Regions from separate parts of the Homo sapiens genome. Here regions 1, 3, 4, 5, 6 and 7 are each linked to region 2. Evidence: fine-mapped expression QTL. A gene starts in region 2. Each other region holds a variant in brackets. All regions are shown on one strand. Distances are from middle to middle. Region 1 overlaps LINC02197 (long intergenic non-protein coding RNA 2197). Region 2 holds the start of NAIP (NLR family apoptosis inhibitory protein). Region 3 overlaps LINC02197 (long intergenic non-protein coding RNA 2197). Region 4 overlaps BDP1 (BDP1 general transcription factor IIIB subunit). Region 5 overlaps MCCC2 (methylcrotonyl-CoA carboxylase subunit 2). Region 6 overlaps LINC02197 (long intergenic non-protein coding RNA 2197). Region 7 has its middle 400 kb from the start of SMN2.

Evidence for each region. PIP is the estimated chance that this variant, and not a neighbour inherited with it, causes the effect.
Region 1: its variant is fine-mapped to the expression of NAIP in whole blood (TOPMed, PIP above 0.99).
Region 3: its variant is fine-mapped to the expression of NAIP in whole blood (TOPMed, PIP above 0.99).
Region 4: its variant is fine-mapped to the expression of NAIP in whole blood (TOPMed, PIP above 0.99). The same link has a PIP of 0.9 or more in lung and monocytes.
Region 5: its variant is fine-mapped to the expression of NAIP in whole blood (TOPMed, PIP above 0.99).
Region 6: its variant is fine-mapped to the expression of NAIP in whole blood (INTERVAL, PIP above 0.99).
Region 7: its variant is fine-mapped to the expression of NAIP in whole blood (GTEx, PIP above 0.99). The same link has a PIP of 0.9 or more in aorta, lung, spleen, subcutaneous fat, tibial nerve and visceral fat.

The regions. Positions count from the first base shown.
Region 1 is chr5:71,361,718-71,365,786 of GRCh38, reverse strand. The region is part of intron 2 of LINC02197 (long intergenic non-protein coding RNA 2197); the gene reads left to right. Among named protein-coding and RNA genes, the nearest start is that of LINC02197, 83 kb to the left of the region's middle. The variant C/T (reference allele first, on the strand shown) is at 1,921.
Region 2 is chr5:71,023,240-71,027,308 of GRCh38, reverse strand. It overlaps NAIP (NLR family apoptosis inhibitory protein), which reads left to right and starts at 1,970. Exons shown (of 17, transcript NM_004536.3): 1 at 1,970-2,694; 2 at 2,903-2,991. RefSeq lists cis regulatory regions at 377-1,841, 2,207-2,420 and promoters at 1,842-2,206, 1,611-4,069.
Region 3 is chr5:71,372,304-71,376,372 of GRCh38, reverse strand. The region is part of intron 2 of LINC02197 (long intergenic non-protein coding RNA 2197); the gene reads left to right. It overlaps LOC105379025 (a long non-coding RNA gene), which reads left to right. Exons shown (of 2, transcript XR_001742723.2): 1 at 1-931; 2 at 1,995-2,337. It also overlaps the pseudogene PMCHL2. Among named protein-coding and RNA genes, the nearest start is that of LINC02197, 72 kb to the left of the region's middle. The variant G/C (reference allele first, on the strand shown) is at 1,956.
Region 4 is chr5:71,545,616-71,549,684 of GRCh38, reverse strand. It overlaps BDP1 (BDP1 general transcription factor IIIB subunit), which reads right to left. Exons shown (of 39, transcript NM_018429.3): 33 at 940-1,003; 34 at 79-265. Among named protein-coding and RNA genes, the nearest start is that of MCCC2, 40 kb to the left of the region's middle. The variant G/C (reference allele first, on the strand shown) is at 1,637.
Region 5 is chr5:71,614,655-71,618,723 of GRCh38, reverse strand. All of the region lies in intron 6 of MCCC2 (methylcrotonyl-CoA carboxylase subunit 2), which reads right to left. Among named protein-coding and RNA genes, the nearest start is that of MCCC2, 29 kb to the right of the region's middle. The variant C/T (reference allele first, on the strand shown) is at 1,696.
Region 6 is chr5:71,320,809-71,324,877 of GRCh38, reverse strand. It overlaps LINC02197 (long intergenic non-protein coding RNA 2197), which reads left to right. Exons shown (of 3, transcript NR_134269.1): 3 at 3,463-3,847. Among named protein-coding and RNA genes, the nearest start is that of LINC02197, 120 kb to the left of the region's middle. The variant C/T (reference allele first, on the strand shown) is at 2,084.
Region 7 is chr5:70,442,679-70,446,747 of GRCh38, reverse strand. It overlaps the pseudogene GTF2H2B. Among named protein-coding and RNA genes, the nearest start is that of SMN2, 400 kb to the right of the region's middle. The variant C/T (reference allele first, on the strand shown) is at 2,364.

The sequences.
Region 1 (4,069 bases), 340 kb before region 2:
GCAAGGGCCCCCTGTTTGCAGGTCTATTCCAAACTCTCTGTGCTCTCAATCACTTCAGAACATTTTATTTTTTTCCTCCATCAGACTCCCCTCCTCATTTCCTCCTCCTAACTAAACTGGTACATCCCTCAAGCAGGTGCTTCCACTCAACAGTGGAAGGAGGTTGTAGCACTTTCAATCAAGGCCTTCCATCTATATATCTATGTTTATCTATACCTGTATCTATGATCTATCTAATTAGAAATAGAGACAGAGAGGGAGGTGAGGAGATTGAAATAGTAGTATAAAAAAAGAAGTTCCCAAAGGCAAAATATCCTATAAAGACTTTGCAGGCCCTCCATGGAGATACATGTTTTAAATTTTTATAAGGAAGAACTTAAGTTTTCCTTTCCATAAGTTTTTGCCTCCTAATCGTGCCCACTGCTGTGTAAGAAAAAGGGGGCACATTACAGTGCCTTTCAAAACAACCCAGCTCCCCTTGGCTAGTAGATCTGAGGTTGCAGTATTTCTTTACCTTGGGCCAGATTAAATACTTAGGCAAGACTCTCTACCAACCAAACATTTCTGTAAATTGAGAGGGAGCTATAGATGAATGTATCCTTCCTTAGGTCTGGATAATCTGAGAATACTTCCTTCAGGTTCATGTAGCAGAAAGAATAATACTTCCATTCTACCTAAAGAGTTTCTTGCAACTGAGATTTGCCTATTGACAGTGGGTGCAAAGCTGAGAGAAAAGAGCCACATTCAGGATGTGGCTATCTCTCAACAAGGAACAAGGTGACCTAGAATAGTAGGAGTGGAGCCATTTAATCACTCAGGAAATAAATTTTGCCATTCCAGTTCTAAAACTCTAAGAGCATTTTTCGACAGGCATGTGGGAAGTAGAATACTGATACCAATAGCTAAAATCAATCTATCTTATCCCAGCAACTATGGAGCCAAGTTGGGTTAGGACTATGGTCAGAGATAAACAATTAAGTCTGCAGAGCCTAACTAGGTAACTAATTGGTGAAGATGCATTTTGTAAGCTGTGACAGTTGTGTCTAAATCATTGAAAAAGTATGTTTCATCTACAATTGGTAGCCAATGCCGAATTCCAGATGTTTGATTTCCTAGTTTTCTTAGAGATAGTGATTTTTAAAATGTTTATGTAGAAGCTGACAGTTAGACATATCTATACATAGAGTCGTACCTGAATGTTCATAGCAGCTTTAATATTAGCCCCAACCTGGAAAAACCCCAAATTTCCCTCAAAATTATAATGGATAAAATGGATAAATTCAATGAACATTATTCCTAAAATGAAATACACTAAGCAATAATAAGGAGCTGACCACTGATGTACTCAATAAGAACAAATTTCAAAAAACAAGATGCTGAGATAAAGAAGACAGAAACAAAATAATGCACATGTATGATGTCACTTATACAAAATTTAGAAAAGATATATCCTGTACATAATGACAGAACCTCCATCAGTGGTTGCCTGTGATCAGGGATTGAGATGGTGAGGGCATGTGAGAAGTTTTCATATATGATGGAAATGTGCAGGGGATATACAATTGTCAATATGCATCAAACTGTCTAATTTAATATATGTTTTATTGTATATGATAAATTGATTTTCTAAAAATCATATACACTAACTCAAACTTCTTATAGCTGAACACATTTTATATTAGGTGTTTATCTTATATTTACAGATGATGTCTAGTAAGCCTCAGAGATGTCCAGTGGGATCTGGGATTTGAACCCATGTCTATTTCAATTTGTCCTCTCATTCCCTTTTTACACTCAGCTTTTCTTTTAACATGCTCACATTTTCCCTACGACTACAAAATGAAAATAAACAGAACCTTTATTTTTAAGCTCTTATCCTACTTTGCTTCTTCTGTGCAAATGTTTTAAAATAATAGTTGA[C/T]ATTTATTCCTTCTACTTCCATACCTCATCCATCTCTTGCATTCTAATGTCCATCGCCCGCTTACTGAAATAGAGAAAAAAGTCACGATCATCCAGCACTGCCAGTGATTCTCAACTTTTTAAGTAATTGACTTTGTGTGTTTCTTCAGAACACTTTCTCCTCTTAAGATTTCTGGTTCCCTTTTATGTCTCCCACTGCCTTTCCATCATCTTTTTGTTTGACTCTTTAAACTCCTCCCTTTTTCCTTTTTTCCCATGGTCTCTTCAAATATATCTAAACTAATGCGTTCTGCATACTTATTTTGAGTCTTTTTGTGAGGTCTAGTCCAACTGGCAAAATATGGTATCTCAATTTCCTACCATAAACTCATCATATCTCAAATTTAAATTTCTCATCTTTCTTCATGCAAAACACCTTGAACCTCAATTTAAACTTCATCATATTCTTCAATTTCTTCTCCCTTTGTTTTATTACACAGCTTATTTTGGCAAAATCCTAGGGTATTTTAATGTGTTTTTCATGTGCATCACCTCTCCATATATTTACAATTGTTCTGGCAAAAGTTTATATTGATAATTAGTCTTAGTGATTATAATTATGCCCTACTTTTGCTTTCTGTAATTCATCCTACACACTGTTGCTAAGTAATAATACCACTAAATCACAGCTCAGAATATATATTTTATTGCCTGCTGGTTTTCTATATCTATGAGAACACTTATTTCGAATGAAACAAAAACGATTAAACACGTAAAGCTGGAGCACTGAAAAGCACCAGGCATGCTAAGGGCCAGGGATAGACAGATGAAAGAGCATGCCCGCTATCTTTGTCTTAACATTCAAAGACCCGTTAATTTCCATTTCAACATGCACTTTTTGTCAATTTTGTTTTCCACAGATTACTTTCAAGCATCCTTTGAAATAAACCCACTAAGATCATTTTGCCCAGAGCTTGCCCGTTTTGTACCTCTGCTGAGATTTTTCTCATTTCCTGGAATTATGACAATATTAAGCATAACTGTAAAAATTCTAAGTATCATTTGTATAGCGTAATAGTAGATCCAGTCCAACACTGCCTAGAAACTTGCACACACCATTGCATTTCACCCTCGCAACAATTCCATGTGGTTGGTTCAGCTATGTCTACTTCACAGATGAAGATATGGAAACTCAGAGGTGTTACATAACTTGCTTCCATCACACAAGTCACAAAATCAAGCCAGTCTGTCACCTAAGAAACCCTAACCCTTCTCACTTTAATACACTACCTTTATTATCCTACATTTAATTTATTTTTTATACAACTTTGCTCATGACAATCTTTGTTCCTTTAGTTGGAAGTTTTTATTCCTCAATTTCCCAAGGGGAAGATTTTACAGGTTAAACATTTTTGTCACTTGTCACTTAGCAACTTAACATTCTAGTCATTTATGCACAAGTTACTATCTCTACAAAACGTGAACAATTTGAAGATGAAAAATTATGTATTATATATCTTAAATCCATCCCACTGTAGTTCTTTACAGAGAGACAGTACTCAGTAAATATTTATAAGAATCATGACATGCAAATGTGCATATTCTCTCTTATTAGAATATAATTTAGAAAATGTACTTGACAAATGAAAAGTAGCATCAGATTATTCTTGTTCAAAATATTCCTCCTTGGTAAACACTAATACCTGGACTAATTTTTGAAGACTGTACTTCTCAGTGGGGGAGAAGAATTGGGAAAAATTCTTTAGTGTGAGAATATCTTAGGGGAACAGCTATAGTTTTAAAAAATACTGCTTTGTTTTATTCCAGTTATTTCTCTTTTATCAAAATTTTAAATTTGTATTTATAGTTGATATAAAAGGATATGTATCTTGAGAGATCGTGTGTCAAAATAATTGAAGGACATTTTTTGTCATTTGTGTGAAATAGAAGAAGTGTTTTATTTCTTCTTCTATGTGTTTTATTTCACACATTTGTGTGAAATAGAAGAAAATGATACCTGTGTGTGATAGAAATAAGTTTATATCCTATGAGCAGGTAACAAAAAAGAAAAAAAAAACTAGCTGGACTTTTTCTCTTAGGATTATATTTTCTTTGGATGACAATGATAAAAGTTCTCTTTACTATGTAAATTTGCCAGTCTAAGAATAGA
Region 2 (4,069 bases):
CCACAACTAATGTATGAGCTTCCAGTTGCTCCATATCCTCAACTAACAGTTGATATTGTACAATACAAATGTTAACTTTTAGAATATCTTCACAACTTTAGAGTAGATAGTGATTTCTTAGGACACAAAAACTATCAATCATAACAAAAATTAAAATTGGACTTCATCAAAATTAAAAACTTCTTTTTGAAAGACACCATTAAGAAAATGAAAAGATGGTTAACAGACTGAGAGAATATATGTGCAATGTAAATATCTAACAAAGGACTAGTATGCAAAATATATAAAGAATCCTTATAATTTAGTAATAAAAAGGAAAACACGCAATTTTTAAATGGGTCAAGAATTTAATTACGGCCAGGTGCAGTGGCTCACACCTGTAATCTCAGCACTTTGGGAGGCCGAGGTGGGTGGATCACGAGGTCAGGGGTTCGAGACCAGCCTGGCTAACATGGTGAAACCCTGTCTCTACTAAAAATACAAAAATTAGCTGGGCGTGGTGGTGGGCGCCTGTAATCCCAGCTACTCGGGAGGCTGAGGCAGGGGAATCGCTTGAACCCAGGAGGCGGAGGTTGCAGTGAGCTGAGATTGTGCCACTGCACTCCAGCCTGGGCGGCAGAGCGAGACTCTGTCTTTTAAAAAAAAAGAAAAATATTTAATTACCTTACCAAAGAAGATACATGAATGACCAATAAGCCATTAAATTAAAACTTCAGTGAGTATACACATATGCCCTGAAGTAGCTAAACTTTAAAACACTGCCCTATGTGTGTGTACTTTTTAGCTAAAAAAGTGTTTGAAAACAGTATTATTTTGAAACTCAAAATTCCAAATCCTCTCTTCAAATTAGGTAGTAGTGTCACTGGAAGTAAAAGAGAAGTTACTTTAACTGCTAAAGAGTATCCACTAAGAATCTACATCAAACATCATGTTTAATGCTCAAACTTTAGAAGAATTTATACCAAAAGTCAAGAATAAGATAGGATATCTATCTTCATTATTAAGCAACATTATATTAGAGGACCTAATCAATGCAACAAGGCAATAAATAAAAGACAAAACTGTCATAATCAGATACTACAAACATCTAAGAAAATTCAGGGGGATTTACAGTCATATATTAAACAGTCCAGAAGGAGTCCTATACATCATCAATGAATATTGAGAATAAAAAATAGTTTTTAAAACCCCTCCAATTTATAAGGGCAACAAAATGTACAAGGTACTAAAATAAATGTAATGTGTATTTGGGTATAAATACAGCAACATAATGAAAAGGTTTATTGGGGAAAAAATTACAGGGAGAAGGGTCAACAACGTGAAGAGGTTCCCCTGCCATCTGGACTTCTGGAAAAAGACCTGCTGGTCTAGGCACAGCTGGATGCACCATGGAAAGTGGTTCCAATAAACACTGGCACTGTAACAATTGTGTATGTTGATACAAAAAGAGGGAGCCAATGAATACTTGGTCGATTATTTAACAATTGCTTCTCTGCTGAAGAAATGGCCTTGTTGGACTAGAGCTTAACTGTGGTTCACATACTAATGCTGCTATAACAGCTAGAAGCCTTACTAAGAAATTTGCTAAACCACCAAAAAGAGGAAATGAACCTTCTAGGATATCTGGATTGCCTTTTCTTAAAAATCTAGTCTTGGCTGGGTGCTGTGGTTCACGCCTGTAATCCCAGCATTTGGTGAGGCCGAAGTGGGCGGATCACGAGGTCAAGAGATCGAGACCATCCTGGTCAACATGGTGAAACCCTGTCTCTACTGAAAATACAAAAATTAGCTGGGCGAGGTGGCATGTGCCTGTAGTCCCAGCTGCTGGGGAGGCTGAGGAAGGAGAATCACTTGAACCCAGGAGGCTGGGTTTGCAGTGAGCTGAGATCACGCCATTGCACTCCAGCCTGGCAACAGAGCAAGACTCAGTCTAAAAAAAAAAAAAATATATCTAGTCTGTATGGCAGCACAACATCAGGTAAAAGTACAGACTAGCCAGATCACTGGTTAACCTTAACCCCTATGTGCTTGAGTTTCCTTATCTGTAATATGGAGATGATATAGCAATAGCTGATTTTGGACTGTTAAAGGAATTAAGTGGACACATGTAAAGTGCTTAGAATTGTGCCTGGCAAGTAGTAGGCTGCAATATTGTGATATAATAAATATATATATTTGATCTTCATCCAGTTCCTGGCACAGATCTCCAGAAACCCTTGTAATTTCCTGAGTGACAGGGGTGATAGAAACATCTTTTATTAGAATACTTGGTCTTGGTTCCTGACACAAGAGCTTCTAAGACCTTTGGAATCTCCAAGTGATAAGAGTGTATGACAGTGAGCTAACTGGTGGCTGGGATCCTTTAGACAACTTCAGGATGGGGGCTATCCCCTGAAAGACTAAGGCATGATTAGAGGTCTGGGATTTGCAGCCCCACGCCTCGACCTCCAGAGAGGGTAAAAGGGCTGGAGATTGATTAACCACCAGTTGCCAGTGATTTAACCAATCATGCCTAAGTGATGGCACCTCCATTAAAAAATAAACCACAGGTTTGGAGAGCTTTCGGTTTGGTTAACCCCAACCACATACCAAGAAGGCGATGCACCTCAAACTGCATGAAGACAAAAGGTCCTGTGCTCACCTGGGACCCTTCTGGACGTTGCCCTGTGTACCTCTTCGACTGCCTGTTCATCTGTATCCTTTATAATAAAGCAGTAAACATAAGTAAAGTTTCTGAGTTCTGTGAGCCATTATAAGAAACGATCGAACCTGGGATTTTCCTTTCGGAAGCCGCTCTCTCTCACAAGGGAGAGAGCTGTTCTCCTTTTTCTTTTGCGTGTTAAACCTCCGCTCCTAAACCCACTCTTCGTGTGTATCGTGTCCTTAACCTTGTTGGTGCGAGACGACGAACCCCGGGTATTGACCCCAGACAACAATGCCACTTCATATTGGGGACTTCGTCTGGGATTCCAAGGTGCATTCATTGCAAAGGTGAGTAAAGGGGCGGACCTCAACTCTGTCCTTTGATTTCGAGGCTCTTGGCCTCCATTTTAGAATCAAACCAAACCAAATACTGGGCCCCCTTCTGCTTCTGTGAATGAGAAAACTCTGCCTTCACCAATTAGCCATTTAAAAATTATGAGCGTGGCTGCCAGCCTTACAAGTTTTGGGGGACAGGCTTGCTGGGGAGAACATGGAGAACCCCCCAATACCCACGGGCTGCTGGGCATATTGGCCATGTTTGAACCAGTTTCCTTTCACGGAGGACCAAGCTGTCGTGTGGGGCTGGAAGAGGTCCTGGAGCAACTGAGGATTTCTGGCTGGGGCTACCTCCTGGTGCCATCCGAAGGCTTCTGGACTGACCCCAGCCTCCGGCCACCCTAAGGGGTGTCGGCAACAGGACCTCCAACTTTCCTATCATAATTCCCTCATTTCCTATCCACGACCACCATGTCTCCTAACCTCTCTCTGTATGCAGTACTGAGGGAGTTTTACAGTTCAGGGAAGTAATCTTGTTAGGCAAGAACAAAGACTGCTGTAGTAACCAGGGATATAGCACAGGGGCATGCTGTTGTGATTTTCTAGGAACAGAGGGTCTCCTCTCCCACCACAGTGAGCGTCACTCTCTGCCCTTGCTCTGGAAAGCACATGGCATGTCAAGGTCACTCTGCCCTTTGTCATAGTAAGATTAGGGTGGGGCGCCCAACCTTCCCCGCGTGCTATGTAAACGTCACACCTGTTCAAACCAACCTGTGGGCTCTGCGCAAATCAGACGCCGCCTCCTCAGGCCTACCTATAAAATCTGGTGCAGTCCACCGCAGGCCGGATTTTCCTTTCGGAAGCCCCTCACAAGGGAGAGATCTGTTCTCGTTTTTCTTTCTTTTGCCTATTAAACCTCTGCTCCTAAACTCCCCCAACCCCCAAGAAAGAAATTATCGAACCTGAGGGGGTTGCAGATACCCATGATTTGTAGTGAACTCAGACAGAAGTGTGGGTACCCTGAGGTCCTAATAGTTGTGGCTGGCATCTGAAGTAGGGGGCAGTCTTGGGGGCTGAGCCCCTAACCCGT
Region 3 (4,069 bases), 350 kb before region 2:
ATGATATGGACCAACAGGTCCATATCAAAAAAAGAATCAGACTTGCCAGCAACGTTGGTAGACTCTTCCCAGCATACATCTGAGTGCTGAAGGAAGAAGAAAGTTTAAATTGTTTAAAGGACTATAATTATCACACAAAATTTATTAAGAAAAAAGAATAATGGATCTAGTATAACTAATTCTGAGTAAACCAAAATGATAAGAACTAATTAAACACTTCTTAATCCCACATTTTTGGCAGGTGTAATTGAGCCATGGTCGTATTTGATTTTGTTATGATTGCATCCAAATTTGCTTAAACTCAGAGTTATGTTTAATGGTAGGATGTAAGAACTGAATTTTGAAAAACTACTCACTGTCAAAATCTCTCCTTCCTATAGGAAATTTAGCTGAGTTTTCTTCATCCCCAGTTTCTCTCTTTTCTAGTGTTGATTCGGTATCCTGAACCCCATTCTCAGCTGGAAAAGCTACAGATCCTTCTAGTGCAAGATAAGGTTTTATAACCAGATTCAGTGACAGACCATGATTTAAGAAATTATGTTTTTTCTTTGTTTTTTGTGACAGCATAATCCCATTGTTCTACTACCCTAGCAGTTCCTCCCTAGACAATGAGGCCAATACCCCTTCCTCTACTTCATATAGGCTTTCTTTTTTTACTCTATACTGTAATCCTGAATGCTTTCATGCATCTCATGGCTTTCATTATCATTTCTACTTTGATAAGTCCCAAAATGATATCTTCTGTTTATATTCAACTTTAGAATGCCAGACCTGTCATCTCTAGCTGCCTATCTCAGAGGCACCTTAAATTCAACCTGTTCAAAGATCATCTTGTGCCTTAACCCAGATTCACTGCTTCTCCAATGTTCCCTGTTCCAGTTTATAGCAACACCATCCTCAGTTTCTCATTCCAAAAGCCCAGGAGTAATGTGTAAGTAATAGATTCTGGAACCAAACCACCCTATGGCCGTACAACTTTGGGCAAGTTATTTATTAACCCTTTGATTTACTTTCCTCATCGATGATGTTTGAGTAATAATAGCACCTACTTCTTATGGTTATTGTGCAAATTAAATCTACTAATACATGTGAGAAACTTAATGATTAGTACCTAGCAAGTGCATTATGAGTGTTAACTATTGCTTTTCCTCTTATATTTTTTAACTTTTATCTTCTTTGCCTCAGACCCACAATCAGTGAATCGATAAATTCTCCTATTTTTAACTCCAAAATATTTTTCAATTCTATTCTGTTTGTTTTCACCATCTTGGCCAAGTCCACCATCATGTTCTAATTGCAGATCTACTCATATTGCTGCCTTGCTTATGGCTTCACAGTATTCTCATGGAAAAAAACCCAAAAGATTCGGTAATATAAAATCCTTGCTGGCCAGCCTGGCTTTAGAATACTTCTTCTTTCAGAATGTGTTTCCACCACCTCCTCCTCTCTAAGGCTTCTACTCCACACACCTTCCAGTCTCACTAAAGAACTAAGGATGCTCTTCTCTCCTAATGAAGTTGTGTTTACTTCTCAGGTCTCAACTTACATACAAATTTTTCCAGAGAATTTCCTGAAACACTCACCTCTCTCACTAGACTAACTTGCTCCAACTACTCACATAGATAGTATAACACTTATCATTCTAATTAAGTAATAATGTGTGGCTTTTTTATTCACATCTGTCTCAAAGGTAGGGACAGTGAGAGAGAATCATGCCATTCAAATAGAAGTTTTATTCTCAGCATCCAGCACATCAATTCACCATAGTAGAAGCTCAGTGAGTATCTGTCCAATTAATGAATAAATGTTGAGCACTGTAAGCTACGCTTATGGATACCATAGTTTAGTAAGGAAGCAGAGAGTTGGCAAAAATAAATTTGAGAAGTATGATAATGGATACATTAAAAAGTGCCTTGTTGTCCACTGGGAGGAAAGGTTTTAATTTAATCTGAGTT[G/C]ATAAAGAAGGCCTACATAAGGAAGCTTTGTGATTTCAGGCTGAGGATAACAGTGAACAGGAGTTGGCTCTGTGAAGGACCTGAAATGTGAGGAGGACAGACTGAGAGAAGATCACCTGCAAACTCTCTGAAGCAGATGGTGTAGTCTGTGTAGCACTAGAATGCAGATGTCCACTTCACATGATGGTGTGAGTTTGCACAGGGCCATTTCCTTGGTGACCTGTGTGTCCTAAATCCAAGGGGACTCTCCCAGAACATTCTGTTGTGATAAAGATTCTTGGGATTTTCTGATTCCTGAGATGGGAAGAACTTAGTTCATGTAATGGCAAGTTGGGGGCTCAGGATATGATTCAATTTTAATAAAAACAATAACAGCAATAAATAAATGTGTCAATATTTGCTGTAAGTTTATAGACTAAAATTCTTAGTTTATACATATGCAGCCACAAATACACATACACACATGCACAGAGGCAGTTGTGAAAAAACACATACAAATATACAGGATTGGATGAATGCGAAAGGAAACTTACTTCTCTTTTTACTTTATACACTTTTAAATGTATACATTTCTCTGTTGTTTGAAATTATTGTGTGGCATTCTTTTGGCATTACTTATGTAATCAAAACTCTCAAAAGCTAAGTAAAAATTAAGTAGAAATACATTTCAAATTTAGCCAGTAGCTTGTCTAGTATGTCTGACTTAAGTTGACTTTATGGTATGAAAAATGTGCCTTTTTTTAGCTGAGAAATCATCACACTTAGGTATACCTTGGAGAAAGGTAATATGGGACAATAGCACTCGGCAAATTTATGATGAGCTATTGTTTGTATAATTTTTAATCACTCATATTTAAGACTTGATTTTCTATGCTGATACTAACATGGGATTTCTCTGCTTCAAGCCATCTAAATTAGCTATGCAAAGGGGTGAAAGTTCCCGGGATTTGTTTGGCAACACGTTTCTGAAAGGCCGTTTGGTGCAGCTGCCTTCCATTTGTTTCATCAAGAGACTAAGCTAAACTAAAGTAGTTCTTCATGATGAACTGGCAGGAAAGTGCCAAGATAGTTTTATTGCTTAGCAACTTGGCAGGAGGAAATGTTAAAATATTACAATCTCTCGTATCTATGAACTGAGACAGGCTTTCAACTGATGGCTCTCCAGCTCGAACGTGATTAAGATGCAGCCACATGGCCCGGGCTTATATTTTGAGCTGATAGGAGGAAGATAGGGAAGTTGGATACTTTTAAATGTATAAATAGTAATTTCTCAGAAAACATTTGCTGATCTGAGCCAAATGCTAATCTGAGGAATTAAGCTGTCTCCGTTGTGATGTTGATAAGTACTGCAACCCCTATTGATCAATGGGATTTCCTTTGCATTTCAGAAGGAAGGATACGTCTATTGAGAAATTGCACGCCAAGTAAAATCCTGAGATAAACAACTTCATACAAGAGAAACTGACAGTTTACCATACATTTTTGGAATTTAAAGAGTTGTTGTGGTGTGCTTTCTTTTTGTGCAAATTATGGAATAGATGAAAGTGACAGAGTGATGACACCACCTAAATGGAAGCATAATGTAGACGGTTATTGCAGATGCCTTACCACACAGCTCTGCCAGCGCACATGCTTCCTGCAAACCTCCTGCAATTTAAACCCTTGGGCTCCTTCAACTAATGACGCTAATTTGCCAATGGAGCAATGGCTTTCTTCGCTAAACACTCACCTACAAAGGAGTATGTATTAGCCGACAATGTATGTGCTCAGTAAAAACTGGCAATATAACATGCACATTTTAAATATAAAGACCACTTTCATCACTACATTAAATCATAGGGATTGATTTAATAAATCACAGTGTAAATAACTCTCCAGAATTATTACTATTATTTTTAATAAAGGTAATATTTGGGGGAAAATTATATGGTACTAAATTTTTCCAAAAAATCAAATTATTGGGAGAAAAGTTATAAGAGTACCTGGTTCCCTGTTTTGTCTTAAAGGATTTCGGTTCATAATTGAATTTATATTAAGCATGAACAGCAGTTTGCAATTGACATTGTTTCATTCAAAGCTAGTATCTTCATGTACATTCATGAGTCCAACATATA
Region 4 (4,069 bases), 520 kb before region 2:
AATGGTTTGTTCAATCAATGCTACTTAGTTCATAAATCACTTTTCCTCCTAGCAAAAACAGTTTCACTCATTCGTTACCTCATGTCACCCCTTTCTTCGGTATTCACTGATTTGACCAATATGGGAGCTGGCAGTAAAGGGTTTGGCATGAACTGTGCAGTGGCATCAGTAAATTCTTCTACTGCATTGGCTGGGATTTCCACCAGAGTTAAAATAAAGGCTTGTTCATCTTCTCCATCTTGAGGTACATTAGCAACTAGATTCACTATCAAAGTTTAAAAGTTAGTAATAAAAAAGCTCAACTATGAAATAACAGAGTATCATTAATTTATTTCATTTCTAAAAAGACAGTCTCAGGACAACTTATCATCAAGACTAAATAAATAAATGCTCCCCCCAACAACCCCCCAGCCTGAGGAAGTAAGTTCCCTCCTTTTTTGCGGGGGGGAGACAGAGTCTCGCTCTGTCGCCCGGGCTGAAATACAGTGGCACAATCTCGGCTCACTGCAACCTCCGCCTCCTGGGTTCAAGCGATTCTTGTGCCTCAGTCTCCCAAGTAGATGGGATTACAGGTGCATGCCACCGTGCCTGGCTAGTTTTGTATTTTTAGTAGAGATGGTGTTTCACCATGTTGGCCAGGCTGGTCTCGAACTCCTGGCCTCAAGTGATCTACCCACCTCCGCCTCCCAAAGTGAGCCACCATGACTGGCCCAAGAAGTAATTTCATAAAGGATAAAGGTGATATACTAGGGAGAAGATTTATGACTCTGAAAAACAAAACTGATACACAAAATACTTCAAGGTGTTTCTATAAAACGTTTTAAATTTAAGGCCAGCATAGACTAAAATACAACTGTTTTATGTTTTTCCATAGTTAAATAAGGGGTAAAAATCATACAACTAAGTTCTATGACATGTCACTGAAGCATATTATCATACCTGTTAGGTCTTGAGGATTGATTATATTCTCTTGTTGGACTTCTGGAATACTTGTTGGTGTATACTGCCATAAAAAATTAAAATGAAAGAGTCAGGTTGGCCAAATCTTACATTTAAAAAGTTATTCCTGTCAATATGATATAGTGAAGAGATTAACTCAACAACATCTAACCATATACAGTTTTCAAGTGTTTGAAGCTTTAGGCTGTTCCAATAAACTTTTGATTCATTTAAATAAATATTAATACAAAGAATCCTGACTACATTGTTAAATATGTGCATTTTATGAAATGATTTTTGAAGTGACAGGATAGGGAGACCCAAACCCCACAACTTTTTCTCTACTCCCATCACACCAGCCATTGTACTATTAGTAGGTGACATCTGAATGAAGGCAAACTGCTTTCCCTGCATGCAGTATGGTTCCCTCCTGTTTTCCAAAAAACCACAAACATGGTTTTTCTAAAATGCAATCCTGACTGTAATTCTCTACTGCTTAAAATCTCTCAGCTCACCACAACCTCCGCCTCCTGGGCTCAAGCGATCCTCCCACCTCAACCTCCTGAGTAGCTGGGAGTACAGATGCACGCCACCACACCTGGCTAATTTTTTTGTATTTTTCAAGGGTAGAGATGGGGTTTTGCCATGTTGCCCAGGCTGGTCTCAAACTCCTGGGCTCAAGTGATCCACCCACCTA[G/C]GCCTCCCAAAGTGCTGGGATTATAGGTGTAAGACACTATGCCGGGCTTCTACTGCTTAAAATCTTTTATTATTTTATTTATTTATTTATTTTTTTGAGACAGTCTCGCTCTGTCGCCAGGCTGGAGTGCAGTGGCACAATCTCGGCTCACTGCAACCTCCGCCCCTCTGCCTCCTGGGTCCGAGCAATTCTCCTGCCTCAGTCTCCTGAGTAGCTGGGACTACAGGCACACACCACCATGCCCAGCTAATTTTTGTATTTTTAGTAGAGACAGAGTTTCACCATGTTGGCCAGGATGATCTCAATTTCTTGACCTCATGATCCACCCGCCTCAGCCTCCCAAAGAGCTGGAATACAGGTGTGAGCCACTGCGCCTGGCCTGCTTAAAATCTTAAAACTTTCATTTTGTAACCAACAATGTCAGTAACTGATTAAGGCAGGAATCATCAGTGGATATTAAAACTACAGGGTAACAGCTTGCTGCGTTGGTCTCATTTGACAAGTTACTAATACAGAATGGAAAAGATGCCATTATAATGAAGAAATCTGGTAGGTACCATTCTAGCCAAGTGATCAGTCAGCATCACCAATAATGGGACAAACTGACATTATGTGTCTCCCGATGTGATATAAAAGGAAGAACACATTATTACCTATATAGTAATCTTGCCCTAAAATATGTAAGTTGAATCTAGTAATGAGGAAGCAATTAAAAAAAAGAAATCCAGACTGTAGGCCAGCCTAGACTGGTCTAAACTTCTCTTGCTTTTTCTCTTTTGTGAACAAAAAGACAAGAAAAATACTCTAGATTAAAGGAAAATAAGGAGAAAGGATAATCAAATGCAATGTGAGAGCCCTGATTGGATCTTGAATTTAAGAAAAATAAAAAAAAAGCTGGCCAGGCGTGGTGGCTCACACCTGTAATCCCAGCACTTTGGGAGGCTGAGGTGGGCAGATCATTTGAGGCCAGGAGCTCAAGACCAGCCTGGCCAACATAGTGAAACCCCATCTCTACTAAAAATATTATACGAAAAAATTAGTCAGGTGTGGTGGGACACACCTTTAATCCCAGCTACTTGGGAGGCTGAGGCACAAGAATCACTTGAGCCTGGGAGGCAGAGGTTGCAGTGAGCTGAGATCGTGCCACTGCACTCCAGCCTGGGTGACAGAGTAAGACTCTGTCTCAAAAAGAAAAAAAGCTATAATGGACATGATTGGGACAACTAGGGAAACTGGAATGAAACTGTATATTACATATTGTTGAGACAATGTTAAATAGTGTAGTAATACTGAGTGTGACAACAGTACTGTCCTTTCTCTGTAAGAGAACTTCCTTGTCCTTATTAGATACAAGATGAGGTATTTATGGACTCAACCTACTTTCAAATGATTCAGTTTTTTGGTTTTTTTTTTTTTTTTTTTTTTTTTTTTGAGACAGAGTCTTGTTCTGTCGCCCAGGCTGGAGTACAATGGCACGATCTTTGGCCACTGCAACCTCTGTCTCCTGGGTTCAAGCAATTCTCACACCTCAGCCTCCCAAGTAGCTGGGATTACAGGTGCATGCCACCACGACTGGCTAATTTTTGTATTTTTGTAGTGATGGGGTTTCACCTTGTTTGCCAGGCTGTTCTTGAACTCCTGACCTCAGGTGATCTGCCCACCTCGGCCTCCCAAAGTACTGGGATTACAGGCGTGAGCTACCCCACCCAGCCAAGTATTTATCTATACAGATGGAGAGCAAGACAGAGTAAAAAAACAAATGAGGCAAAATATTGACAATTAATGAATCAAAGTGAAGTGTATGGGATAATTCTTTGTAAGATTTTTGTAACTTCTAAGTTTAAAATTTTTCAAAATAAAAAGTAAAAATTAAAAAGTCAGGGTGGGGTAAGGAATCTCGTAACTTTAAATGTAACCAAACTCCTTAGCAAGTCATAAAAATCCTTTTATGATCTGTCTGCAGGCTATCTTTCTAAGTTCATCTCTAATCACTTTCTTCATTAATATTCCACTCATACTGCTTACATGCTGTTTCATACTGGTTTGTTCTTGGAAACAGGGTCTCACTCTGTCTCCCAGGCTGGAGTGCATGGCGACCACAGCTCACTGCAGCCTCTACCTCCCAGGCTGAAACGATCCTCCCACTTCAGCCTCCTGAGTAGCTGGGACTACAGGCAAATGCCACCATGCCTGGCTTTTTTTTTTTTTAATGGCATTAAAAGTGTGAGCCACTGCAACCGGTCCACACCTGTTCTTTACACACACGTTCCTCTCCCTTTAACTGGATAATGTATACATGTTCTTCAAGTCCAAGGCTTCTCTCACTTGGGGAACTTTTTATGGAACTGTTCATGTATTGGTTACATGACTGCATAGTTATAAAAACCTGAAGAACTGTACACTAAAAAGGGTGAAGTTAGCCAGGCACAGTGG
Region 5 (4,069 bases), 590 kb before region 2:
ATACCCAAGACTGAGTAATTTATAAAGAAAAGAAATTTGGCCTGGCATAGTGGCTCATGCTTATAATCCCAATGCTTTGGGAAGCTGAGGTGGGAGGATAACTTAAGCCAGGAGTTCAAGACCAGCCTGAGCAGCAAGACTTCACCTCTACAAAAAGAAAGAGAAAGAAAGAAAGGAAGGAAGGAAGGAAGGAAGGAAGGAAGGAAGGAAGGAAGGAAGGAAGGAAGGAAGGAAGAAGGAAAGAAGGAAAGAAAGAAAGAATTTAAAAAAGAAATTTACTTTTCACGGTTCTGGAAGCTGGGAAATCCAAGAGCATGGCACTGGCATCTGACAGTCATCCCATGGTGGAACAGCAGAAGGTGGGAGGGCAAGAGAGGGCAAGTGTGTGTGAGACAGAGAGCAAACGAAGGCCAAACTCCCACAATGATAGCATTAATCCATCCATGAGGGCAGAGCTCTCATGACCTAATTACCTCCCAAAGGTGCCACCATTTAACATCACCACAATGGCAATCACATTTCCAACACATAAACTTTTGGGGGACACATTTAAACTGCACCACTGGGAAAATAAAAGAAGAACATTGCAAAGATCATCATGTCATCAGGCCTCAGATATGGAGAAGGCCCAGAGAAGGCATTCTCATGACATGAGACTCAAAGAAAGACCACCAGACACCCACACATCAACTCTTTAAACTCCAGAAACGATTAAGGGGTCTTAAAATCTGCCATGAAGGAAAGATGAAACAGAAGAGAACATAAAAGTAAGTACCTAGTTTAACTATCTTTTCTCCTTGAGAGCAAAAGAAAATGTTGAAACCTGGAAGGTCTATAGTAATCTGTCCACATTTTTATAGCAGCAAAGATACAGAAAACGATACGGGTATGATTGCCAATAGACATACTCTTTGAAATAACTAGGTAAATGAATTTACAATGGGCAAGGCTAGTAACATTAAATAAAAACCAACCTTGGAGAGAAAAACAACTAAATTTGAGTAAGGAAGCTGGTGCTTACTATCGAAATAAATACATAACATAATTGAAGTTAGAAGTGATTAACTTATATAATAAACATAAGGAATTGTTTTATCAGTCTGTCTAAACCAAAGTCTTAAATAAACAACAAAACAAACATTAAACTTAGGAAACAGAACCACTCAATATCTATCATATTACAACTTTAATAGTTATAAGGAGATTTATCTTTTAATAAATATTAAGTAAGTACCATCTCAGGGAAATGTGTGAGGATATAAAAATTCATCTAAATTGTCCCTATTCTCAAGTAGCTAACAGACTAGTAGAGGAAATTAGTCCAGATATATCTAGATTAAAGGGATAAATGCTATTAGTAAGGCACAGTACAAGAACTATGGGAGCTAGGAGGAAGAAAATATTACTTCCAGTAAAGGATTCCGGGATTTCCTTAAAAGGGTGGCATTTGAGATGTGTCTTGGAAGATGGGTTGGAGACTCCGACCCAGGAGGATGAGGGGAAAGAGGACCAGCATGGGCCTGAGCAGATGGTCAAAAAAGGCTATGGTATATATGGAGACCAGTGACTGCATCAGGTTGACTGCAGTTTAGGGTCCAGGAGCAATAAGGCTAGAAAGTTAGGTTGAAATCCGATCACACGGGGGCTTAAGTATCGGGCTAAGAAGTATGAGCTTTGTTTTGTAGCAAATAGTAA[C/T]AGGAGGGCCACATAAAGAATAACCTTGCAGCATGTGTCCACTGTATGGGAAAGGATAGACTAGGCAGACAGGGACACCAGGCAGGTGAGGCTAGAGCCACAGTCTAGTGGTAACAAAGGCCTGAGCTGCCTCTGGGGGTGATAGTAGGAACAGAGTGGAGAGGAACTGCCCAAGGGTGAAACCAACAGGACTCATCAATATATTAGGCAAAGGCTTAGGATGTGTTCACTTTGTGCCCGGCATCAGAGCAACTGCCAGGGATACAAAAATGTCAAAGATGTATATTTTTGACCTAAAAGGATTAAGTAAGGGAAAATGCAGAGAAAAGAGCCAAGGATGACATCAAGTCCTAGGGAAAGAGCAAGGTAGTGCTAGCAGTAGATGGGAACTCAGGTGAGGGAACAAATGAGTAGGGGAAGTTAATGTGTTCAATGTCTAGTTTGAACCTAAGTCTGAAAAGACAGAGGAAAAAGTGTTTTTCCTACTGTCTGACACAGTCACTCAATACCTCTGACACCAGATATGTGGGGGTATTTCTCCACACACCAAGCAGTTCTCCAGCAGACACCAGCTGTCCTCTAATCCAATTCAGTTCTTACAGTCTACCTAGAGACAGCATCAGATCCCACAGACTAAGGGCTCAGTCCTACAAGATGGCCCTCACTTCAGATGCCAATCCACAAGGAGCAGGTTGTCACCTATATTTCTGATTGACTGTAAATCAGGGCTGCCACTACCCATCCTTGGGTTTGACTAATTTACAAGAGTGGCCCACAGAACTCAGGGAAACACTTTACTTACATTTACTGGTTAGGAAGGATATCATAAAGGATACAGATGAACAGCCAGATGAAAAGATACATAAGGCGAGTCTGCAAAGGTCCTGAGGGCTGGAGCTTCTGTCCCCGCGGAGTGGGAATGCACCACCTTCCTAGCACTTGGATGAGTTTGCCAGCACAGATGCTCTCTGAACACCATTTAGGGATTTTTATGGAGGCTTCATCACAGAGGCATGGTCAATTATTAACTCAATCCCCAGCCCCTCTCCCTCCCTGAAGGATAGGGCTGGGACTGAAAGCTCCAAGTTTATGGTCATGGCTTGGTCTTTCTGGTGACCAGCACCATCCAGGAGCCCACTAAGAGTCGCCTCATCAGAATAAAAGATGCTCCTATCACCCAGGAAATTCCAAGGGATTTTGGAGCTCTGTGACAAGAATGGGGGTCAAAGACCAAATCATAGAACAAAAGATTCTTCTAGTACCCCTATCTACAAGGGTATTAGGAACTCTGTCGGAGGAACTGGGGCAGACACCAAATATTGGAACAAAAGAGCCTCCTAGTGCCCCTACTGCTCAGAAACTTATGAGGATTTTAGGAGCTCTGTTCCTGGAACTGGGGACAGAGATCAATGTGTATATTTCTTATTATTTCATACTAAGGTACCAGCAGGAAATTGACTGAGAAAGCAGAACCCCCGAGGTTCAAAAGTAGAGATGTAGAGGTGGTCAAGACTAGATAAAGATCAGGGAGATGACAGGTAATGAGATCTGGCTAAATCGTTAAAATAAATAAATAAATAAGGGCACCCCAGTGGCATGAAGCATAAGGAGAATTTCACGAAAAGGAAAAAAATGATGATACCAAGAGGCTGTGCAGAGTGGGAATCTGGTCTCTAGGCTGGTGAAACTCTCGTAGGGCATGGAGGTTTGAAGGAGTGAGCAGTTAGAATGAAGACAATGTGCCAATCCTTAAGAATGTTGGCTGGGCGCGGTGGCTCACGCCTATAATCCTAGCACTCTGGGAGGTCGAGGTGGGTGGGTCACCTTAGGTCAGGAGTTCAAGGCCAGCCTGGCCAACATATGGAAACCTCATCTCTATTAAAAATACAAAAAAGTTAGTCAGGCATGGTGGTGCATGCCTGTAGTCCCTGCTACTAGGGAGGCTGAGGCAGGAGAATTGCTTGAACCCAGGAGGTGGAGGTTGCAGTGAGCCGAGATCGTGCCACTGCACTCCAACCTGGATGACACAGTGAGACTCCATCTCAAAGGGGGAAAAAAATGTAGCCACCCAGGTAGGGAGAAAAGCTTCAAAAACAGCAGAAGCTAGAAAAGGTCTTTATCTTTTGGCATCATTTTAGTGTTCTTTTTTTGTTTCCTTTAAAGAAAAGGTATCAACGTGATTTTGGGGTGTGAGAAGAAAAATAAGCAGATAAAAAATTTTTTCATTTTTAAAAGATGGGGTCTGGGCTGGGCACAGTGGCTCATACCTGTAATCCCAGCACTTTGGGAGACCAATGCGGGCAGATCACTTGACCTCAGGAGTTCGAGACCAGCCTGGGCAACATAGTAAAACCCCGTCTCTACTAAAAATACA
Region 6 (4,069 bases), 300 kb before region 2:
AGTTAGATCTATTTTATATAAATTTTCTCATTAAACCCACATCAAACTTTTTCTCCTGCATTTTTTAAATGGAAAATGTGAGGTTGATAGGAGTTAATTAACTCTACTAATAGCTGACGGTAATGAAACTATCATTACTGAGAACTATAGTTGGTTTTTACAATTATTTCATTTTTTGTTGGTTTGTTTTTGTTTTTGTTTTTTGAGATGGAGTTTCGTTCTTGTTGCCCAAGCTGGAGTGCAATGGCGTGATCTCAGCTCACTGCAACCTCTGCCTCTTGGATTCAAGTGATTCTCCTGCCTCAGCCTCCTGAGTAGCTGGGATTACAGGCACGTGCCACCACGCCCAGCTAATTTTGTATTTTTGGTAGAAATGGGGTTTCTCCATGTTTGTCAGGCTGGTCTCGAACTCCCAACCTCAGGTGATCCACCCACCTCCGCCTCCTAACGTGCTGGGATTACGGGTATGAACCAGCATGCCCGGCCAATCTATATCTTTTAAGTGTGAAATGCTTTCAGAAAAATATTTCAACCAAAAGGGAGAAATGTGGAAGTTGTGAGCACCAAAATGGAGTCACTTACATCAAACCATAAAAAAATGAAGCTGGGAGGCCATGAAAGAGGGGCCTTCATGTACATATGTCTATAATAAGAACTGCTGCAATGGTTCTCTCAAAAACCACGAAAATGTTAGATATGATAATTCTATGAAGACATCTCTCCAGCAACAGCCAATATTATCAATGAGTATTTGCCAACTCTTGTAACAAGCTTCTCTGGCCCATGAGGTTTATTACAAAACTTACATAAAATTTCTCTTTTAAGATTTTTGCCTTCCTGATATGGTTTAGATTTGTGTCCCCACCCAAATCTCATGTCGAATTGTAATCCCCAATGTTGGAGGAGGGGCTTGGTGAGAGGCGATTGGATCATGGGGGTGGATTTCCTCCTTGCTGTTCTTGTGATAGTGAGTTCTCATGAGACCTGCTTGTTGAAAAGTGTGTGGTATTTCCCCTTTGCCCTCTTCCCCCTGCTTCGGCCATGTAAGACGTGCCTCCTTCCTTTTTGCCTTCTGCCATCATTGTAAGTTTCCTGAGGCCTCCTCCAATCATGTTTCCTGTACAGCCTATGAAATCATGAGTCAATTAAACCTCTTTTCTTTATAAATTACCAAGTCTCAGGTAGTTCTTTGTGCTAGAACAAACTAATACAGTCCCTCAGCTTCTTTGGTGCCTAAGGTCCACCATAGCATGTGTATTTCAAATTGCAATTTACTGCTATTTCCTGAATACACTCTTTATTTTAGAGAGTCAGTATCTCTGTTGTTTAAGTTGACATAATCTAATGTCAGAAGCAAGATGCAAAGGCTCCAAGCCTTCTTTGTTACTTACAGTTACAGCACTGTTATCCAAACAGTAACAAAGAAAGCCTTTGGAAGGCTTTCAAGTATCTGGCGATACTTGAAATTGTGTATGATACTCACCTGAGCCTATTGTGATCTTCACTTGTACAAGTTGTCTTTATGCTGCGAGATAAGTCCTCTCTTGGTTTGAGCTCCCACCTTTTCAGTGAACTCTTACATTTTGGGGGATCTGCTCTTGTAAAGGACATCCTTTCTGGTGAGTATTCTTTTGGTTTAATTTTTGGTTTGGTTATTTGTGCATGAATTTAATCTCATTAGGAAACAAGTTAAGTTGAATAGACCAACTAGTGAATTAATCCGTCTCCAAAATATACGTTTTTGGCATTTACCTGTTTATTTTGAAACTCTTTGTAAGAAATGTAAACCTGTAATGATAATCTCTGCTTTGTAAGGATATCTCCCTCTCTGACACCTAAAACACTAGATGCTTTCACAAAGCAAAAGGAAGAGACCTAAATCTATCTATCTGTGTAAACTCACCCTTGACCATTTCATTTTGAAGGCTTCCTATATATGCTTTTTTTCATCTCAACAAATAGTGGTGTTTAAGTTCTGTACCTTTGAGATTTAAATTTTCTACATTCCTTCACCTAAAAATCATCTCTTTGGAAGTACAAATTTTGGGTGGCCTAACTAACACTTGTTTATGGGCCAATTGAA[C/T]AGATCATTAAAAGACAGATAGTCTGAAAGAGGGAGTAAAACTACTTGCAAGCCAGGCAAATAACAATTCTTAATGCAAGTTGTAAGTTCTTCCTCTGTCTGTATTTTTCTACGTGTGTGTGTGTGTGTGCGTATGTACAATTTTTTCTACCAAAATTCATAAACGGCTCTACTTAATTGGCTTACAGAGAAAACATAAGTGTTTAAACTAAGAATTCTCTCAGAAAAACAGAAACTCAATTGCCTTTTGGCTTATGTGACGAAATAATCTTTGGCAGACAAAGCTAGTTTTAAAATTTGTTGGCAAAATAAAAACAAATATTTTCAGAATTGTCAGCATTAATTACAATGTACAGATACAGTTTTTAAACCTAAAGTTACTGGTGAAACAAGCTTGCTATTACTGAGATGTATAATGAATGTCTTAAAGCTATAAATCCACTCATCCTTGTGTTTAAGGAGGAACTGAAGCACAATTGTTAAGAACAAGTGAATTAGGTGAATATAAATTGACAAAAGGTTGATAATAAAGTTGTCAGAATTTCAAAAATAATTTAGTGTGACTTGAAATCTTAAAATCATGTTATATTAAATTAAGTAACACTTTACTGATTTAATATTTGAGTCATTTCTAAGGAAAATACTGAAATATCAATTGCTTAACAGAAGTTTAAAATATACGTAATTTGGCATCTTGGTTTCACATGTTATGGAAAAGCTAAACATATTTGGGCCTGTTAATTAAAGGCATAAAAATTATTTTATGAGATGGTGTTCATCTGCAAAATACTAACATGATGCACTTCAAAATGCTTACTAATTTTCACTAGAAATTAAGGTTACTAAGAGTTAATTAAAATTAATATTAGAGTAATTTAAACTAGAAATAATGAAGGGAAACAAATCTGTACGTGAGGGAAGGAAAACACATACAGAAAGTTATAAGTAAGAGGTTGTGTTTTTGTTAAGGGAAAAAGAGAGTATTTTTTGTCTAAAAGTAGAATGTCTTACTGTTCCAAAAAGAAAAAGAGAAAAAATATAGACAAAAACTGAATAAGATAACTGGATGACAAATTTATAGAAAGTTTGTGGAAGATTAATCTTGTGAAAAGAATTTTATGTGTGACCAAGTTGGCTAAAGTTAAAAGGAAATTATTTATAAATATTCTGAAAACTTGAGCATTATTATCAAAAGTACAGGAATGGAAAACTTGAAATTTGTCCCCTGTGCTGAAACAACAAGCTTTTCTTTGAGTATTGACCTGCTCTTAATAGACAATAGTGAAATGTTTTCTCTACCTTTTAGATAACTGGCCTAATAAACCAAGATTTTTTGTTTATCAAGGTAATTTCTTATGCTTTATGCTCTCTTTTACTAGGTCTTTGATTACTTGAGAAAAGTGAGTGAGGTGGGGCCAAGATGGTTGACTAGAAGCAGCTAGTGTGTGCCACTCTCACAAATAGCAGGAAGAGTGGTGAGACACTAGCTCTTCAACCGGAACATCCAGGTGGACACATAAGGATTCATCAGTGACATAGTGTGACCTTCGGATCACGGAGAAGAGTGAGACAGATCAACCATTCACCCAGGAGTGGCACAGACCCAGGGGAATCCCCCTACAAGAAAATGGTGAGTGAGTGAGAGTCCCGTGGGATGCATATTTCTGCCACGAACCTTTGAATCCCTGGGCTCAGGAGATACCCCAGCTGGGGTCTCCAGACCAAAACAGAGAGCCATGTGGAGTCTGGGTAGAGCTGCTTCTTAGGTAGGTGTGGAGTCCCAGTAGCATTTGTTCCCTGGGTACCCCAAAACCAGGGGCTGCAGCTCCAGCAATTGGGAAGGCCAAGTTTTCTTGCACGCTCCCCAGAAAAGGGGCCAAGTCCATGGGGCTGAGCAGTGATAGACTGCAGACCTCACCACCACTGAACCTTGTAGGATAAGGCCCACTAGCCTGGGATGCTAGTGAGGCCACCCTAGTCCTCCTG
Region 7 (4,069 bases), 580 kb after region 2:
CTACATTTGTTCTTTCAGCATTACATATATGAGTACTTGCTCCTTGGGATAGAATTTCCAGGGCAGCTTCATACACAGATTCAAAAATCACTAAATCTCAGAAGTATTTGGCTTTGAATAAAAAAAAAAAGAAAGAATGAATAAATAAATTTCAAACAACACAGACAATGACCTATTCTTAAAAACTCAAATGAGGCCGGGTGTAGTGACTCACGCCTGTAATCCCAGCACTTTGGGAGGCCAAGGCGGGTGGATTGCTTGAGCCCAGGAGTTCAAGACCAGCTGGTCAACATGGTGAAACCCAGTCTCTACTAAAAATACAAAAATTGGCTGGGCATGGTGGTGCACGCCTATAATCCCAGCTGCTTGGGAGGCTAGGCATGAGAATCACTTGAACTTGGGAGGCAGAGGTTGCAGTGAGCCAAGATTGCATCACTGCACTACAACCTGGGTGACAGAGCAAGAGTCTGTCTCAGAAAATAAAACCAAAAAACTGTCAAATGATTCAAAAAGTGGTTCCAGTTAAGAGTAAACTACTGATGTCAAAGAGGTATATAAAATTTAATAAAATTACTTTATAAATTGTGACAGTGGAAGAGCAATACTTCTAATTATTATTTTATATAATATATATAGTTTTAAATATGAACATGTAACTAAATTAAAAATTAAAGCTAGACAGTGATCCATATTATTTACATCTATACAAATTTATTTATTAAAGTTGGCCCTCTTCAAAATTTAAAAAAGTATTTTCTCATTGGCATAATGGAAGAATCACCTATTATCTGTGGCCACCTTAAACAATTTCAATGTGTTATCACACAGCTTAAAGTATAATATGAAGAAAATATTTTAAATACTTTCAGACTAAATGCAGTTTAGCTTGAAAGCTAAAGACAAATTACATGTTTTACAAGGGTGTACCAAAGTAGACAAAACAATCAAAGAATTTAAAAAAAGAGGAAAAAAATTAAAAAATTTTTAATAAAAAGTTTTAAAAAGATGAATTACAAAATACTTTATAGCAAAAATTAGAATGCAGAATAACAAAACTACTATTTAAACTATTTTGTTCCTATTTTACCTTCACCTATTGTCATTATCTTTACAAGAAATAAACTGATATGAGCCTGGTCTTTAACAACCTGTTGAAAACTTATAGTACCATTGATTTCAATATTTCTTGTACATTACTTAATATTTAGAAAGCCAAAGAACTTACATGTTGGTCTTTCAATTCCCCCTGACATCCATAACAAAATCTGAAAAAAAAGTTTAACAATGTTTTTTCTTAGAATTTACTCATTAAAATAGTTCAACAAAATCTCACTAACTAGAATCCTTTAATTAATATGTACTTGTCTTTACACATGACTTTCAGGAAAAAGAGTTAAGAATACCAATAGGCCAGGCACAGTGGCTCACGCCTATAATCCCAGCACTTTGGGAGGCCGAGGCAGGTGGATCACCTCAGGTCAGGAGTTCGTGACCAGCCTGGCCAACATGGCGAAACCCCGTCTCTACTAAAAATACAAAAATTAGCTGGGCGTGATGGCAGGCGCCTATAATCCCAGCTACTCAGGAGGCTGACGCAGGAGAATCGCTTGAACCCAGGACACGGAGGTTGCAGTGAGCCGAGATGGTGTCATTGCACTCCACACTGAGCAACGGGAGCAAAACTCTGACTCACAAAAAAAAAAAAAAAAAAAGAATAGCAATAATTTAAAAAAAAATTCCACAGTATATACAAGGTCATCTGACAGCCCAAAATTTAGTTTTTATTTTCATTAAGGTTAACTGTGAGCATGCTTTATTTTTCTTTGTTTTCGAGTCAGGGTCTTGCTTTGTCTCAAAGGCTGGAGTGCTGAGGTGCTATCACAGCTCACTGCAGCCTCAACCTCCTGGGCTCAAGTGATCCTCCTGCCTCAGCCTCCTGAGTAGCTGGGACTACAGGCATGTATCTCCATGCCTGGCTAATTTTTTATTGAGGCAGGGTCTCGCTATATTGCCCAGGCTGGTCTCGAATGCCTGGGCTCAAGCAATCCTCCTATCTTGGCTTCCCAAAGTGTTAGGATTACAGGCATGAGCCACCATGCCCAGCCAGAAGCACTTTCTAACGTTTGTTTGATAGTCACTTATTCTAATAAGTGCTACTTTGTGATTCTTCACAGTTATTGGCTATAAATCTCCAACTATGAAAGAAGAGAATTTAATTATCTTTCAATCATCTTGAACCCAGTAATGCATAAATATTTAACTAGTGTCATTCTCAATTCTTTCTACATAGTGAAGTCTTCCTTTTGGATAGAACAATAATCAATGTTTAGTTTACTATGCCTATAAAAATATTCTCAGCTAAG[C/T]CATAAGTTTTCCCCTATTTAAAACATTTTTTTTTTTCCTGGAAATACTGTGTTGCTATTCCCAAGGTTAGTTTCCTATATAATTGACACTAATTCAGGCCCAATCTTCTCCGGAATAGTCTAACTGTCCTCTCGATATGTTCAAATACATCAGGAGTTCTGCAGTTTTCATCCCCTTGGTGATCTCTCTCCTGGAGCATCCTGACTGTCTCCAAACTGGACGGTTCCCCATATGTGACACACAGGTATCATTCTGGAATTTCTCCTTACCATCATCCTAGGCCGTTCTTCAGCCTGTTTTGAATTAGATACATATTACTAGATCCCATGTCATTCTCCTTCTCAGTTCCTTTGAATCACCTACCTCTTCCAGACCTTCCCCAGAAAAATCTCTTTTTGAGACCTTACAAGTCTGAAAATGTCTTTATTCTACCTACACTTAACTGACAGTTTGGCTGGGTATCTAAGTTGGTAACAATTTTCACCACAAACTTTGAAGGTGACTGCTCCCTCTCTGCATCCGGTGTTGCTAATGAGAAGCCAAACAATTTTAATTCCAGATCCTTTGTGTGTGACCTAGTTTTTCCTCTCTGGAAATGTTTAGGGTTAATGGTTTATTGTGTATTCTGAAATTTCACAATTATGGGGTCTGCCTTCCTTCAATACGTTAGGCACTTGGCAGTCCCTTTCTTTTATCTTCGTTGCAGAGATGAGGTCTTGCTGTGTGACCCAGGCTGGCCTGGAACTCCTGGCCTCAAGTGATCCCCCAGTCTCAGCCTCCCAAAGTGCAAGGATTAGAGCTATGAGCCACCCTTCCCAGCCAACAGGCCCTTTCAATCTAGAAAGTTCTGTCCTTCAATATAAAATTTCTTTGAACTATGTCTTTGATGATTTTCTATCCTACTTTTTTTCTTTTTTTCTCGTATCATTCTCATTGGACCTTCTGGATAATTCCACCAGTATTCTTATCTTTACTCTCCTATTTGAACCTCTTTATTTTACTCCTTTTATTGTACTTTCTGGAATATTTCTTCAACTCTATCTTCTATAGTACTGGGTTTTTCATTTTTACTATATTTAACCTCAACCATAAGCAAATAAATACCAAGCTAAAACAATGAGACTTTTTTCTTTTTCTTTTGCCTGTGAGTTTTGGCCAATATAAAAAAGTTTCATAATACCTAATGTTGGCTAAATGTGCGAAAACAATAAATGAAAGTTCTTTGAAGAACAACTTTACAATATCTATCAAAATTCACAAAACATGTAAAACTCTTGACTCAGTAATTTTACCTCTAGGAATTTACCATGCATTTATACTTGTACAAATGTTCAAAAATATAGATATAAGCATTATTTGTTAATAGCAAAAAAAAAAAATCTTAAATATCCAACAGGAAGCAATTGATTATATAAACCATAATTATACCTGAAATATGCAACAATTTCAAAAACAACATTGATCTAGATATGGTGATACTGAATGACTTCTAAATGATTTAAGTGTGAAAAGCAAGATGGATACATAATTGTTTTCGGCTAGCCAGTAAGTGTTTAATGTGACTCCTAAATCCTGGATGTTCTTTTTTTTTTTGATGGAGTTTCGCTCTTGTCGCCCAGCTGGAGTGCAATGGTGTGATCTTGGCTCACTGCAACCTCCACCTCCCAGGTTCAAGGGATTCTCCTGCCTCAGCCTCCTGAGTAGC